Linked DNA regions of Homo sapiens: regions 1 and 2 are each linked to region 3. Evidence: fine-mapped expression QTL. A gene starts in region 3. Each other region holds a variant in brackets. All regions are shown on one strand. Distances are from middle to middle.

What was found. PIP is the estimated chance that this variant, and not a neighbour inherited with it, causes the effect.
Region 1: its variant is the best candidate, but not a certain one, in a credible set for the expression of IRS1 in whole blood (INTERVAL, PIP 0.75).
Region 2: its variant is the best candidate, but not a certain one, in a credible set for the expression of IRS1 in thyroid (GTEx, PIP 0.73).

What each region holds. Positions count from the first base shown.
Region 1 is chr2:226,104,414-226,109,845 of GRCh38, reverse strand. No RefSeq gene overlaps it. Among named protein-coding and RNA genes, the nearest start is that of MIR5702, 550 kb to the left of the region's middle. The variant T/G (reference allele first, on the strand shown) is at 2,716.
Region 2 is chr2:226,660,429-226,665,860 of GRCh38, reverse strand. No RefSeq gene overlaps it. Among named protein-coding and RNA genes, the nearest start is that of MIR5702, 4.4 kb to the right of the region's middle. The variant A/G (reference allele first, on the strand shown) is at 2,203.
Region 3 is chr2:226,797,216-226,802,562 of GRCh38, reverse strand. IRS1 (insulin receptor substrate 1) reads left to right here and starts at 2,743. Exons shown (of 2, transcript NM_005544.3): 1 at 2,743-5,347. The coding sequence starts at 3,825. It also overlaps a transcript of RHBDD1 not described here. RefSeq lists silencers at 1,205-1,414, 2,375-2,444, 2,465-2,884, 3,875-3,924 and an enhancer at 4,655-5,347.

The sequences.
Region 1 (5,432 bases), 690 kb after region 3:
AACTTTCTGTCTCATTGATCTGTCTAATGTTGACAGTGGGGTGTTAAAGTCTCCCATTATTATTGTGTGGGAGTCTAAGTCTCTTTGTAGGTCTCTAAGGACTTGCTTTATGAATCTGGGTGCTCCTGTGTTGGGTGCATATATATTTAGGATACTTAGCTCTTCTTGTTGAATGGATCCCTTTACCATTATGTAATGGCCTTCTTTGTCTCTTTTGATCTTTGTTGGTTTACAGTCTGTTTTATCAGAGACTAGGATTGCAACCCCTGCCTTTTTTTGTTTTCCATTTGCTTGGTAGATCTTCCTCCATCCCTTTATTTTGAGCCTATGTGTGTCTCTGCATGTTAGATGGGTTTCCTGAATACAGCACACTGATGGGGCTTGACTCTTTATCCAATTTGCCAGTCTGTGTCTTTTAATTGGAGCACTTAGCCCATTTACATTTAAGGTTAATATTGTTATGTGTGAATTTGATCCTGTCATTATGATGTTAGCTGGCTATTTTGCTCGTTAGTTGATGCAGTTTCTTCCTAGCCTTGACGGTCTTTACAATTTGGCTTGTTTTGCAGTGGCTGGTACTGGTTGTTCCTTTCCATGTTTAGTGCTTCCTTCAGGAGCTCTTTTAGGGCAGGCCTGGTGGTGACAAAATCTCTCAGCATTTGCTTGTCAGTAAAGTATTTTATTTCTCCTTCACTTATGAAGCTTAGTTTGGCTGGATATGAAATTCTGGGTTGAAAATTATTTTCTTTAAGAATGTTGAATATTGGCCCCTACTCTCTTCTGGCTTGTAGAGTTTCTGCCGAGAGATCAGCTGTTAGTCTGATGGGCTTCCCTTTGTGGGTAACCTGACCTTTCTCCCTGGCTGCCCTTTATATTTTTTCCTTCATTTCAACTTTGGTGAATCTGACAATTATGTGTCTTGGAGTTGCTCTCCTCAAGGAGTATCTTTGTGGCGGTCTCTGTATTTCCTGAATTTGAATGTTGGCCTGCCTTGCTAGATTGGTGGGGAAGTTCTCCTGGATAATATCCTGCAGAGTGTTTTCCAACTTGGTTCCATTCTCCCCATCACTTTCAGGTACACCAATCGACGTAGATTTGGTCTTTTCTTGGATAGCCCCATATTTCTTGGAGGCTTTGTTCGTTTATTTTTATTCTTTATCCTCTAAACTTCTCTTCTCACTTCATTTCATTCATTTGAGCTTCCGTCACTGATACCCTTTCTTCCAGTTGATCGAATCGTCTACTGAGGCTTGTGCATTCATCTCGTAGTTCTCGTGCCTTGGTTTTCAGCTCCATCAGGTCCTTTAAGGACTTCTCTGCATTGGTTCTTCTAGTTAGCTATTCCTCTAATTTCTTTTCAAGGTTTTTAACTTCTTTGCCATGGGTTTGAACTTCCTCCTTTAGCTCAGAGTAGTTTGATCGTCTGAAGCCTTCTTCTCTCAACTCGTCAAAGTCATTCTCCATCCAGCTTTGTTCCATTGCTGGTGAGGAGCTGCGTTCCTTTGGAGGAGGAGAGGCACTCTGATTTTTAGAGTTTCCAGTTTTTCTGTTCTGTTTTTCCCCCATCTTTGTGGTTTTATCTACCTTTGGTCTTTGAAGATGGTGATGTGCAGATGGGGTTTTGGTGTGGATGTCCTTTCTATTTGTTAGTTTTCCTTCTAATAGTCAGGACCCTTAGCTGCAGGTCTGTTGGAGTTTGCTGGAGGTCCACTCCAGACCCTGTTTGCCTGGGTATCAGCAGCAGAGGCTGCAGAACAGCGGATATTGGAGAGCAGCAAATGTTGCTGCCTGATCGTTCCTCTGGAATTTTTGTCTCAGAGGATTACCCGGCCATGTGAGGTGTCAGTCTGCCCCTACTGGGGCTGCCTCCCAGTTAGGCTACTTGGGGGTCAGGGACCCACTTCAAGAGGCAGTCTGTCCATTCTCAGTTCTCCAGCTGTGTGCTGGGAGAACCACTACTCTCTTCAAAGCTGTCAGACAGGGACATTTAAGTCTGCAGAGGATTCTGCTGCCTTTTGTTTGGCTATTCCCTACCCCCAGAGGTGGAGTCTACAGAGGCTGGCAGGCCTCCTTGAGCTGCAGTGGGCTCCACCCAGTTAGAGCTTCCCAGCAGCTTTGTTTACTTACTCAAGCCTCAGCAATGGCAGGCGCCCCTCCCACAGCCTTGCTGCCACCTTGCAGTTTGATCTCAGACTGCTGTGCTAGCGATGAGCGAGGCTCCGTGGGCATAGGACCCTCTGAGCCAGGCACGGGATATAATCTCCTGGTGTGCCGTTTGCTAAGACCGTTGGAAAAGCGCAGTAATGGGTGGGAGTGACCCGATTTTCCAGGTGCCATCTGTCACCCCTTTCTTTGACTAGGAAAGGCAATTCCCTGACCCCTTGTGCTTCCCAGGTGAGGTGATGCCTTGCCCTGCTTTGGCTCAGTCCTGCACCCCGTTCCTGACACTCCCCAGTAAGATGAGCCCAGTACCTCAGTTGGAAATGCAGAAATCACCCATCTTCTGCCTCGCTCATGCTGGGAGCTGTAGACTGGAGCTGTTCTTATTTGGCCATCTTGGCTCCACCCCACCCCCCCATTTAATTCTTATATGTAATAAACTTTGATTTTCTTAGTAACATGCCAATATACAGAAAGTTTCAGATCTAAGACATATAAATAATATCAGAATAGAAATTAGAAAAGAAAAATAAATGTAATTAGGAGTTCTGATAT[T/G]TGTTACATGATTTTTTCTTATATATTTTACTTTGGGGTTGAAACTAAGAAAAAAAAATGCCCTGATAATTTGTAATTACAAGCTAAGATTCATGCAGAAACTCAGCCACATTCTTACTACTTGGGTAATTTAAGAATAAGCTTAAAGGAGTCTCAGTCTGTGAATACAACCCAGGTTACTGGAAGAGGCAAATATATATCACTCTGGAAGATTCCCCTTTATTCCAGTCTTCTAAGAATTCTTATAGATAATGTGTCAAGAAAAATGAGCAGGTTACAGCTAAGAACCCACAAAACAGTTAAGGAAAAAGGCATCATAGAGAGAGCAGAAGAAATATCACATAGAGCTAACATTGATTTGTGAAGTTTCAGATATTTAACTATTAGACACAGTTTGCAAATTATCTAGTATTTGACATTTTAAAGAAATTATGTTAGATATTTAAAATGGGAAAATGGGAAAAATTCATTACCAAGTGACAAATAGAACTTCTGTAGATGACAACTATAATATTTGCAATTTAAAAACTCAATGAATAGATTTATAGTAGATTAGACACTGTTGAAGAGAAAATTAATGAACTGGAATGAATATATAAATAAATTATCCAAAATATAGCAATTCTACACTTAGATTTAGATGTGGATACACAGACATAGATATCTGTGGCTCTTAAAATAAGTAATAGAATATTTGACAAATAAATTAAGAGACAAGGTAGATTTTGTAAGATATTTGAGCTAAATCTAATCAAGGTTCCAAGGAACAGGGAAACAGATACATAAAATATTTGAATTTATGTAAATTCTCCTAAACACTTATGAACTATCTCTGCAGAAAATCTACAGCATCCCATGTTCCTCATTTTTTAAGTACAATTAGTCTTTATTTTTTATTTCTGCATTTATGTCATCACTATCATTCCATGCAGCCCCTTCACCACACATTAGATGGTGGACTTTTTGTTGTTAGAGTTTGTATTGTTTTCATGTTGGCATTCCCATTCATCCCCAATACAGTGCTATATACTTAGGGCAGTAAATAATTATTTTCTTAATTTAATTTAAGTTTTGTAGGATGGATCACCGCAGTCTGATCTATGTCTACACAATTCAGTACAATCACTTGTTCTCAGTATTTCTGTAAGGAAGGAGACACTGTGGGCATAGGAAGACCAATGATGTTACAGCATAAGCTTTGAGATATCTGACTCTTTATGGTTGCTTAAATATATCTCATTAGTCCATGTTTATTCCGTTTTAGTTACCTACAATGTAAAATGTATTGCATTCTTTCAGAAATGTGTATTTTTAATATTCTAGTGGTTTGGAGGTTATTAAAGTAATTAATTGAGCTGAGTTAATAGCATAAAACATTTAAGGACATTTCTCAGAAAAAAAGAAAAAGATACATATATTTATATGTAGTAGATGGTGTTTAAGATGTAATTCAGAACAAATTTCATGGCTATATTACAAATCTCTAAATATAGTTGCTAAATGAAATATTTCAAGCATCAAGAGAATAATCAACCAATTTATCAAATTCTAGCATTTTTAAATATTAACCTTATATTTTTTTAAGCCAACGGATGTCATAGGTATATTAGAAGACTGTCATTTGCCTACCTCCATCAAATGAGATCACTTTAATAGAAACTCTGACCCTGATTTAACTACAGGAACATAAACAGTACTACTATAATATAACAGAAGTATAAAACATTATAAAAAATGACAGTAGGTCAAAAAAATCCCCTTCAGGTTAAGGAGAGTTAGATATTTATTTAATACACTGAAAAAGCCCATTGCTTGATTGTTGACTGCTCACATGTTTTTATTTCACTATTTAAACTCCAGACATTCATTTTTAGGGGAACTCATCTATAATTTGAGTTGAAATTATAAGAATGTGGGGATTAATAAAATGCTTGTAGAGTTGGCTGCAAACATACCACCTGATTTTATATAATTAGAGATGACAGACACTGAGGCTCAATGAATAATACGCTTTCTATCTGTATCAAATAGGGTGTGAAAAATAGGTAGAATAATACTAGTGGAAAAAATACATGTAATTTATTAAACAAAAAATAGGGTTGTGTTAGTCTTATTTTTCAACAGCTAAGTCATTGCTTTCATCCTGGTTTATCATACATCATAAAAAACACTGCACTTTCTGAAAATCCTAACTGAATATCACTGTATTAGTCAGGGTTCTCTAGAGGGACAGAAGTAATGGGATATATATATATATATATATATATATATATATATTTTTTTTTTTTTTTTATTAAGGAGTTTATTAAGGAGAATTAAACTCACATGATCACAAGATCCCACAATAGGCCATCTGCAAGCTGAGGAGCAAAGAAGCCAGTCCAAGTCCCAAAGCTGAGGAACTTGGAGTCCGTTGTTCAAGGGCAGGAAGCATCCAGCACGGAAGAAAGATGTAGGCTGGGAAGCTAGGCCAGTCTAGTCTTTTCACATTCTTCTGCCTGCTTTTATCCTAGCTGAGCTGGCGGCTGATTAGATTGTGTCCACCCAGATTAAGGGTGGGTATGCCTTTCCCAACCCACTGACTCAAATGTTAATCTCCTTTGGCAACACCCTCACAGACAGGCTCAAGATCAATACTTTGCATCCTTCAATCAAATAAAGTTGACCCACAGTATTAACCACCACAATCACAATATATGGGAATGAAGATAATTAAA
Region 2 (5,432 bases), 140 kb after region 3:
ATGGGATTAGGAGAGCTTACAAGGACTCTGCCTTTAACTACACCCCCAAATGTAAGATGGGCTGACCATCAATTATTACTTCTAAGCACTTTATTACTTTCTCACTGAGGTTTCAGTCGTTGGGTTGTGCAAGCACCACCAATAAAATGCAGTTTGTGGGAGGTGGGAGTTGGGAGATAGGAAAGACACTCTTTAAAACATACTTTGCCTAAGATAATTATAAACACTGAAGAATGATACAGACAAATTAACATCATAATCGATGGGAGTGGAAGACATGGTGATGATTTTCCCACAAGAAATACTTCTATTTTGGAATTCTCAGTGGTTTACAACTTTCTCTACCATGGGAGTCGATACAATTTTCATTTACTGACTCACTGTCCCTGGAGTCTTTTCCTCTGAATTTTAAACAACAACAAAAAACAGAAAATAAAGAATGGTGGAAGAGATGCAAAGCAAGGAAGAAAGAAAATGAGGGGAAAAAAGGAAATGAGAGAGAAAGAAGAAAAGGGGAGAAGAAAGGAGAGCAAAGGAAGAAGAGAAAAAATCAGTGTGCTGTTACAGAGACTGAAAGGATCATATTTTACTTTGTTCTAATGAAGTAAAATAAAAATGGAAAACATTTTGATTTAAAGGATCATTGAAAATAGCTCAAATTTGAGTGCTATTCAACCAGTGAGCCTCCTATTGACCTAATTGCAAGTGTTTATTGAGTATTTACTGTGTGTCTAACTTTGTGCCGGTTGTTGTGTGGTAGATTGGGGTTATCAATGGGTCAATGTCTGCTCCCTCAATGCTGTGAACTGGTTGGAGATGCTAAAAAGTTAGAGAATCAGACACCCTACAATCAAGAAGCAAAATCAATAGAGGGGCAGTTTATTTTAGTTCTGTAGGTTCTGGGAAGAACAAAAAGGAGTGGCCCAGTCAGACACTTTTGGGAAGTTTTGCATACTACTTCTTCTAGGAGAATCACAGCACATATCATCATATTAAAATTTCTCTCTTGCGATAGAGCTGCCTGGGTCCCTCAAAAGCAGAGACTTCCAAACATTGTGAGTGTAAAATTTATTAGCAAGTGTAAATGCAGAGGGCAGGGCAAGAAGCAAAGCAGAGTGAGAAAGGGAAGGAAAAGAGGTCAACACAAGAATGTGTCACTGAGTCGGCCACCATGAAGGGCACCTGGTGCTCAACACTGTGGGGCTTTCTGCCAAATAAAAATAAAACCTGGGAAAGCAGGGCAAAAAGTTCAGAAAGAGGGACTGGAATCTTGGGAACTATCATTTGAGCCTCTGACTAGGGCCCCATCAACTGTCTCTTGGAATTGTCCCCGTAGGAGGCAAAAGGGGAGCATTTACCCATTGGCTCCTGAACCACCTTGGTCAAGGGTGATTCCCATGTGTATTGGCTCCCTGTACCTCTGGGTGGCCCCTCCATGATGGCTGGGCAGTTCCCATGGAAGAACTGGGCGGCAGGGTCAGAGAAACCCAAGGCAGGAAGAGAGAGGCTCTAGGCATTGGGCCAAAGTGAGGCATTGCCAGCTGGCACCTGGGAGAGCCTGGTCAAAGCCTGGCAGAACTGGACTCTGAAAGAAGTGGCTGGAGGAAGAGGTGGGCCCAAGAGGATGCATAAGTTGTACACAAGTGTAGGCCAATCCAGACAACTATTTAAGTTTTAAAATTTCTAATCTGCCGTCCCAGTTGAATTATTATCCTGCTGAATATGTTTTGATAAACATAAGAATGCTTTCTTTGAGAGATAGGTGCAGGAATTGGTCCAACATCAGATATGGCCTATCCAGGGGATCAGATAACGTTTCTCACATCTTTTATTTATTTATTTATTTATTTATTTATTTTTAATCTTTGCTTTGCTATGTTTTGTTTTCATCTACCAGCGGCTCTTTTTCCACATGGCAGGAAATATGGATCCTGGCAACTCCCTCTGGGTCATTTGTCCTACTCTTTCCTTTTGCTCCTGGGCACACAATTAGACTATTTTTCCTGGCCTTCCTTGCAATTAGGTGGGCGCATACAATGGTTTCTGATTAATGAGAGGTGGGCAGAAGAGATGCGTGTCACTCCCTCCCAGGAGTCTTCACCTCAGGTCTCTTTCCCCCAGCTGCCAGGAAGCTGCAGGGGATTCAATGAGGACTCCATGGTTTAGGGGATACAGGGAGACTTGGTGGAAGGCCACCAGCAT[A/G]TACCCACATTGGGCCATTAAGTGAGTAAACAAGCCAACAAAAACCGACCTCTACAGTGTTAAGCCACTACAATTTTGGTGTTGTTTGTTACAGCAGTTAGCTTGCCCTGGCTAATACACTTCTCATGATCCATATATCAGTATCCATTTTCAAAAAAATATCTCATTACTTCAATTTGGGTCACTTGACTACTCTCTGGACTAATCAGAGTTTCCAGGAAGTTGGGGGAAGGTAGGGACTTTTAACCCCCAGCAGAAACATGTGGAATGGGAATAGATGGTTTATAAGATGAAGAAAGAAGGGACAGGAGGAAAAAGAAAAGATGACATGGCAGTTGTTACAGGATCAACCCTAGAAGGCAAGGCATCTGCTATGATTTGAATGTGTCCTGCAAAAGTTTATGTGATCCACAATGCGGCAGTGTTGAGAGGTGGGACATCTGAGGGGTGATGGAGTCATTATTGGATTAATGGATTAATAGGCAATTGAGGGAGTGGGTTAGTTATCACAACAGTGGGTCTGTTAAAAAAGCCAGTTTGGTTGTCTGTCATGAAGTCCTTGCTATGTAATGCCCTGCACCACCTGGGTTCCCTGCAGAGTCCCCTCCAGCAAGAAAGCCCTCGCCAGATGCAGCCCCTCAACCTTGGATTTCTCAGCCTCCAGAACTATAAGAAACAAGTGTTTTCTCTTTATAAATTACCCAGTCTCAGTCATTTGGTTATAGCAACAGAAAATCAGCTAAGACAGCATTGGAGTCCAGACTCAGCTGTGCCATAACCTATGTGTGCAGCCCTGGGCCTGGTACTCACCCAATATGGGCCTTGCCTCCTTGGTACCATAAAAGAATTGGTTTAGATGGTCTTTCATGCCTTTTTAAACTTTGAGATTATTTAGTCATAAAATGATCAAAAATTAAACTGGACAGATTCTACTCTTTTCTGGGTAGACTGAGTGGTACTTCAGAGGATCTTTCTGCCCCTCATTTTCACAAGTGTCATGGGAAACATGGGTCTTTGCCACCCATTCTCGGCACTGTCTTCTACTAGGCCAGTGAATCCAAGCGACGGCTGTGGAAGGTGCACATCCAGAGTATTGCAATCACCCACGTGCCAGGCAGAGGAAAAACACAGGTGGCTCTTCTGCTGCCTCTGCACCTGCAAGGCAGATGATCTCTCATCACAACTTAATTCTCAGACAGGGTGCTTTGAATGGAGGCAGCAAGGGAGTCCAGGGTCAGAGCTGTTTCCCTTGTGGATGGTTTCCGTGGTGGCCCCATCTCAGAGATCTCCATCTGTCTTCCTGAACAGTGGGTGTTCTGGAGGAAATAGTTATCCTGCACACTTGATGGATGGATATTTACTCAGGAAGGGGATTTATTCCAGATTTAGAGATGGCAGAGGCAGGTCAGTTCCATCGTGGGCAGCCATGTGCAGTGGCCTTGTGGGCAGAACTGAGAACAGAGGGACCCAGTGAGAGGACATTTCGAGGAGCATGCCATATTGTCCTGAAAGGGGCCAGGCAGTGAGAAATGACATTTAGAGGGATTTATAGGCAAAACAACAAGGTGCTAAAAATAAACAGTAATACTCATGCAGTGAGTCACTTTAGAGGCATGTATAAATTCTTCGCTGACACCGTAAGAACGTGGGAGAACTTAGCACATGAGGAGAGAGCGGGGAATGGAATTGGCGTGGACGGGGGAGGCGCAGATGACCTGCTAGTTGGTTCTGGCTAGATGATCTCTGCCCCACTTCTGTGAGGAGGCATCTGTAGTCACAGATAGAAGGAGTGGTGGTATTTTTAAAGTGAACTGTTGCGATGATATCTGCTTAGCTTTCTCATGCTAATCTCTTTCTGTGGTAAGTCCTTCTAAAGTTATTGATTCATAGCAGGGGTTGCACTTTAAATCTAAGGGATCTCTGCATGTTAGGAAGATTAAGGGGTGGGGAGTAGAGTTCACACACGTTGGCATGAGGGGCCACATTGTGTCTTGGGAGAAGGATGTCGTTGAGAAAAAGGCTGGGTTCGTGTTCTAAGTTCAATAGAAAACAACTCAGCATTCTGGGGGCAGGGTTAGTGTACAGGAACTACTCTCTTGGTGACTTTTTGGAAACGGATCCTATAAACACGTATTTGAGCTGGTGGGGTGTGTGTGTGTGTGTGTGTGTGTGTGTGTGTGTGTGTTTGGAAACGAAACACATGGGGAGAGTGACATTCATTAAAAATGTCTGGCCGAGCGTGGTGGCTCACGCCTGTAATCCCAGCACTTTGGGAGGCTGAGGCAGGTGGATCACGAGGTCAAGATATCGAGACCATCTGGCCAACATGGTGAAACCCCGTCTCTACTAAAAATACAAAAATTAGCCGGGCGTGGTGGCATGCACCTGTAGTCCCAGCTACTCGGGAGGCTGAGGCAGGAGAATCGCCTGAACCGGGGAGGCGGAGGTTGCAGTGATCCGAGATCGTGCCACTGCACTCCAGCCTGGTGACAGAGAGAGACGCTGTCTCAAAAAAAAAAAAAAAAAGTCTAAGGCATTCTTTCCTCCCTTAATTCCTTTCCTTCCCTAATTATTTGTTGAGCACCTACTATGTTCCAGGGCTGGCACTTGTCCTTGGAGCCTAGTGATAGGTACTCATCCTGCTTATATTTGAGGGGAACAAGATCCAGATGTACAAGGTAAAGCAAGCAAATGTCAGCTGGTGATGAAGACATAATCAGGTTAATGAAACTGACAGGGATTAGGGGCATGTGGGGGTGGGATTTCTTGGTGAAACTTGAGAGATGACAAAGAGCCAACCCTGCAAGGAGCAGAGTGTTTCAAGCAGTGAGAATGATGATTGCAGAGGCCCCAAGGAGGGAAGGAATTGGCATGCTCTGTGACCTGAAAGGAGGCCAGAGAGGATGAAGCAATAATGAACAGGGTTAGAGACAGGAAGTGAACTGGTCATTTGGAGCAGGGTTTCTCAGCTGCAATGCTACTATTGGCATTTGGGACTGGAAAATTCTGTTGTTGGGAACCAGGCTGTGTATTAGACGACATTTTGCAGCATTCCTGGCCTCTACCCACTAGATGCAAGTAGTTTTCCCCCAGCTGTGACTGCCACAAATGTCCTTTGGAGTTGAGAATGACTGGTTTGGGCTGTAAGCCCACCAAAAGGGAGGTGGGACCCCAAAGGAGAGTTACTAAAATGTCAAACAAAAAAGGCGATGGGTAATTTTATGTATCTG
Region 3 (5,347 bases):
CCCATACCTGCTCAGCATTACTTCAGTGAGTTCCCACAAACGCGTCTCTTTCTATTCTATATATTACATGAACCAAATGTAAATGAATTTCCAGTTAGCCCATTAATAAAACAATTGTAGAGAACAATTGAATTTACTGTAGTATAATTATAACAAATATTAACCACCTTTAAATTGGTAGTAAAACATCAGCAAGTAGAAAAAATGGCACTAATATCCTATGATCAGTGATTATCTTCCATAGGAAACCCATTGGTCTGAACATAATTTGTCACAGCAGTGAGGCTTATTTCATAATTTTTATCGAATATTTAGCAACTGAAATTGTGTTTTTTAAAGCAGAAATGCTTTAACACTGAGAGATATATTTTTTAAAAGGTTTATTATCATAATTAGCTTTTTATGATCAAAATCCTTCCTATGAAGATAATTGTGAGGTACGTGCAAATAAATTTTCCAACCCTCCCCTCCTTCCAGAAAAGAGTATTTTTCCCCCATAGAGGTACAGTACCTTTATTTAGCTTTTTTTGGGGGGTGGGGGGTGGAGGGACGGAGGTAGGGACAGGGCCATTTGAAAAGTAAATGTCCATGGATTTGATTTGTTGTCTTACAAAATGTTAATTACTCCACTACCCCCATCCCAGCGCTAAACATCAAACCTGTGAAAAGCCCTTTGGCCTTATCTGGATTACATTGTTACTAGTAAACAACCCTTTTATAATCTCTCTTTTTTCTTGTCTAGGGTAAAACCAGGCACACAGTTACACTTTTCCACCAACTTCAGGCTTCTTTATTCTGCACCTCCCTGCCCTACCCCCTGTAAGGCACTCTATACCCCCAGAATTTCGGTCACTGTGAGTGCCGCCTCGCTTCCATTTCCAAATATCTGCTATTAATAGCCTTGCTGTAGTGGGCACGTGTGCCCACATCACCAAGCTGTCAGAGGAAAAGAAGGGAGGGCTTTCAATTCAACATGTGTACTCAAATTATAGATTAACCAGGTTTAGATGAGGCTGCATGACGACCGGGAACAGGAAGGGGAGAGGAGAAACGAGAGGCTCCCAGGCTTGGGTGGGGAGGAGCCCCTCTGCAGATGCCCAATCCCCCTAATTTACGTATCGCACACCCCTGAATGGCGCCTATGGTTCTTTTTCTCCTTCATCATCATCATCTTCTTTTTCTTTTTTTACTACGCTTTGCAACCTACCTTGGTACCCTCAACCCTTCTACCCCCACCTTCCCTCTGCAGTGCAAGGCTTGAAAAACAGGCCATCCCACCAATCAGCAGGCCTCCCCGGGAAACTCGCTCCGCCCCTCAGCCGCATTGGGCCGAGGCGCGCTCCCCCGCGGCCCGCCGGGTCCCAGCCACTGAGCATGCCCAGCGCCTCGACTGCTGAGTGCCCAGCCAGCATCCTGCAGTGCCTGGGAGCCTGAGGCCGAGGAGGGTCCCGGCGTAGTAAAGGGGCGGCAACCCCAAACGGGCCAGGCATCAAAATGAGACAGCATTAAACCGAGTGACATCTCTGTGGGTCCTTAGTGCCAGGCGAGCAAGCAGGGACAAACTGCTTGTTTATAGGTCGGCTTAAAAAATAAAAAAACTCTGGGGAGCGTTTGTTTGTGGGGAGACTGATACCGCAAGGTGACCCTGAAAGGGGCGCTTCAAGTAGACCCAGGCTGCTGATCTGGTCCACTCATGAAGTAACCATTTTCCTGTACAGTTGAGCTGGCACCATCCTTGTTTTCTCCCTGTTATCCTTGTGGTCAAGGTTAAAAACTTATAGGGTGGTTCAATGGGTGTGGGAGCTGTGTGTGAAACAAACATTTCAGCCAATATTTGCACAGTAGGGTTTTGGCCTTATGAACCCTCTGAAGGTCCCTAACAGCTTTTTAAAGTCACGGATAGACTTCGGAATATGATAAGGGACCTCTCATTTCCCCTCCCCCATGCCCTCAGCCTTAGGTGTGAGTCCCCCCGTCACACGGATGGGCAAGGGGAGCAGGAGAAAAGGTGATATTTACATTTTCTCCCTACTTGATCAGCAACTAATTCCACAGCGCCGGACGTGAGACACTTCCTGGGGATCCCTGTTCTCCTTTTGTAGTGACCATAACTGCCCCCAGTCACTGCCCTTGGGCGTCCCTCTGTTCCTTCCAGGTACCTCACGGCAGCAAATCTGGGGATCCCAAGGTGGAAGGCTGGCCCAGAAGTCCTTTAGAAAAACCTTAAAAAATACAGATCCCCTCACCATGGCCTATCGCCCTGAAGCCGAAATCTAGCTTTTAAATTTCCTGGGGGAAACAGCCTTGACTAGAAACCTCCCTCCCGTGGGTCAGTCTTACCTGATAGGTAAGAGGCAGCCCAGCTCCGGCGCCCCCGCCTCCCCCCGGCCTCCCACTCGGGGCTCTGTAGCCGCAGTGCCCCCCCGTGGCCCCCCACCCTCACTCCTGCGTCTTCCCGAGCTCGCCCCCTCCCGTTTTCCCAGACTCCCCTCGTGCTTTCGGGTAGCCACCCAAACACCCCCGCCTGCGCCCGCCGCGGGGATTCCTGCGGGCCGGGGGCGCCCCGGTTGGCGCGCGTGTAGGGAGGCGCTGCGCCGGAGCTGGCGGCCGCGCAGGGGCGCTGTCCTAGCGCTGCGCCGGGGTCGGCGCGGGCGCCGCTGCAGCACGGCTGGGGGGCGGAGAGGGGCGGGCGCGGGGCGGGCTCGGCCCGGAATGTAGAGACCCGGGCGGGAGCCTCCCGGCGGCGGCTGCCCGGCTGCCGAGCGCGGAGGCTCCGTCACGTGTTTTTCTCCTCCGAGTGAGACGGCGGCGCGGTCGGAGGGGGCCGGCGCGCAGAGCCAGACGCCGCCGCTTGTTTTGGTTGGGGCTCTCGGCAACTCTCCGAGGAGGAGGAGGAGGAGGGAGGAGGGGAGAAGTAACTGCAGCGGCAGCGCCTCCCGAGGAACAGGCGTCTTCCCCGAACCCTTCCCAAACCTCCCCCATCCCCTCTCGCCCTTGTCCCCTCCCCTCCTCCCCAGCCGCCTGGAGCGAGGGGCAGGGATGAGTCTGTCCCTCCGGCCGGTCCCCAGCTGCAGTGGCTGCCCGGTATCGTTTCGCATGGAAAAGCCACTTTCTCCACCCGCCGAGATGGGCCCGGATGGGGGCTGCAGAGGACGCGCCCGCGGGCGGCGGCAGCAGCAGCAGCAGCAGCAGCAGCAACAGCAACAGCCGCAGCGCCGCGGTCTCTGCGACTGAGCTGGTATTTGGGCGGCTGGTGGCGGCTGGGACGGTTGGGGGGTGGGAGGAGGCGAAGGAGGAGGGAGAACCCCGTGCAACGTTGGGACTTGGCAACCCGCCTCCCCCTGCCCAAGGATATTTAATTTGCCTCGGGAATCGCTGCTTCCAGAGGGGAACTCAGGAGGGAAGGCGCGCGCGCGCGCGCGCTCCTGGAGGGGCACCGCAGGGACCCCCGACTGTCGCCTCCCTGTGCCGGACTCCAGCCGGGGCGACGAGAGATGCATCTTCGCTCCTTCCTGGTGGCGGCGGCGGCTGAGAGGAGACTTGGCTCTCGGAGGATCGGGGCTGCCCTCACCCCGGACGCACTGCCTCCCCGCCGGGCGTGAAGCGCCCGAAAACTCCGGTCGGGCTCTCTCCTGGGCTCAGCAGCTGCGTCCTCCTTCAGCTGCCCCTCCCCGGCGCGGGGGGCGGCGTGGATTTCAGAGTCGGGGTTTCTGCTGCCTCCAGCCCTGTTTGCATGTGCCGGGCCGCGGCGAGGAGCCTCCGCCCCCCACCCGGTTGTTTTTCGGAGCCTCCCTCTGCTCAGCGTTGGTGGTGGCGGTGGCAGCATGGCGAGCCCTCCGGAGAGCGATGGCTTCTCGGACGTGCGCAAGGTGGGCTACCTGCGCAAACCCAAGAGCATGCACAAACGCTTCTTCGTACTGCGCGCGGCCAGCGAGGCTGGGGGCCCGGCGCGCCTCGAGTACTACGAGAACGAGAAGAAGTGGCGGCACAAGTCGAGCGCCCCCAAACGCTCGATCCCCCTTGAGAGCTGCTTCAACATCAACAAGCGGGCTGACTCCAAGAACAAGCACCTGGTGGCTCTCTACACCCGGGACGAGCACTTTGCCATCGCGGCGGACAGCGAGGCCGAGCAAGACAGCTGGTACCAGGCTCTCCTACAGCTGCACAACCGTGCTAAGGGCCACCACGACGGAGCTGCGGCCCTCGGGGCGGGAGGTGGTGGGGGCAGCTGCAGCGGCAGCTCCGGCCTTGGTGAGGCTGGGGAGGACTTGAGCTACGGTGACGTGCCCCCAGGACCCGCATTCAAAGAGGTCTGGCAAGTGATCCTGAAGCCCAAGGGCCTGGGTCAGACAAAGAACCTGATTGGTATCTACCGCCTTTGCCTGACCAGCAAGACCATCAGCTTCGTGAAGCTGAACTCGGAGGCAGCGGCCGTGGTGCTGCAGCTGATGAACATCAGGCGCTGTGGCCACTCGGAAAACTTCTTCTTCATCGAGGTGGGCCGTTCTGCCGTGACGGGGCCCGGGGAGTTCTGGATGCAGGTGGATGACTCTGTGGTGGCCCAGAACATGCACGAGACCATCCTGGAGGCCATGCGGGCCATGAGTGATGAGTTCCGCCCTCGCAGCAAGAGCCAGTCCTCGTCCAACTGCTCTAACCCCATCAGCGTCCCCCTGCGCCGGCACCATCTCAACAATCCCCCGCCCAGCCAGGTGGGGCTGACCCGCCGATCACGCACTGAGAGCATCACCGCCACCTCCCCGGCCAGCATGGTGGGCGGGAAGCCAGGCTCCTTCCGTGTCCGCGCCTCCAGTGACGGCGAAGGCACCATGTCCCGCCCAGCCTCGGTGGACGGCAGCCCTGTGAGTCCCAGCACCAACAGAACCCACGCCCACCGGCATCGGGGCAGCGCCCGGCTGCACCCCCCGCTCAACCACAGCCGCTCCATCCCCATGCCGGCTTCCCGCTGCTCGCCTTCGGCCACCAGCCCGGTCAGTCTGTCGTCCAGTAGCACCAGTGGCCATGGCTCCACCTCGGATTGTCTCTTCCCACGGCGATCTAGTGCTTCGGTGTCTGGTTCCCCCAGCGATGGCGGTTTCATCTCCTCGGATGAGTATGGCTCCAGTCCCTGCGATTTCCGGAGTTCCTTCCGCAGTGTCACTCCGGATTCCCTGGGCCACACCCCACCAGCCCGCGGTGAGGAGGAGCTAAGCAACTATATCTGCATGGGTGGCAAGGGGCCCTCCACCCTGACCGCCCCCAACGGTCACTACATTTTGTCTCGGGGTGGCAATGGCCACCGCTGCACCCCAGGAACAGGCTTGGGCACGAGTCCAGCCTTGGCTGG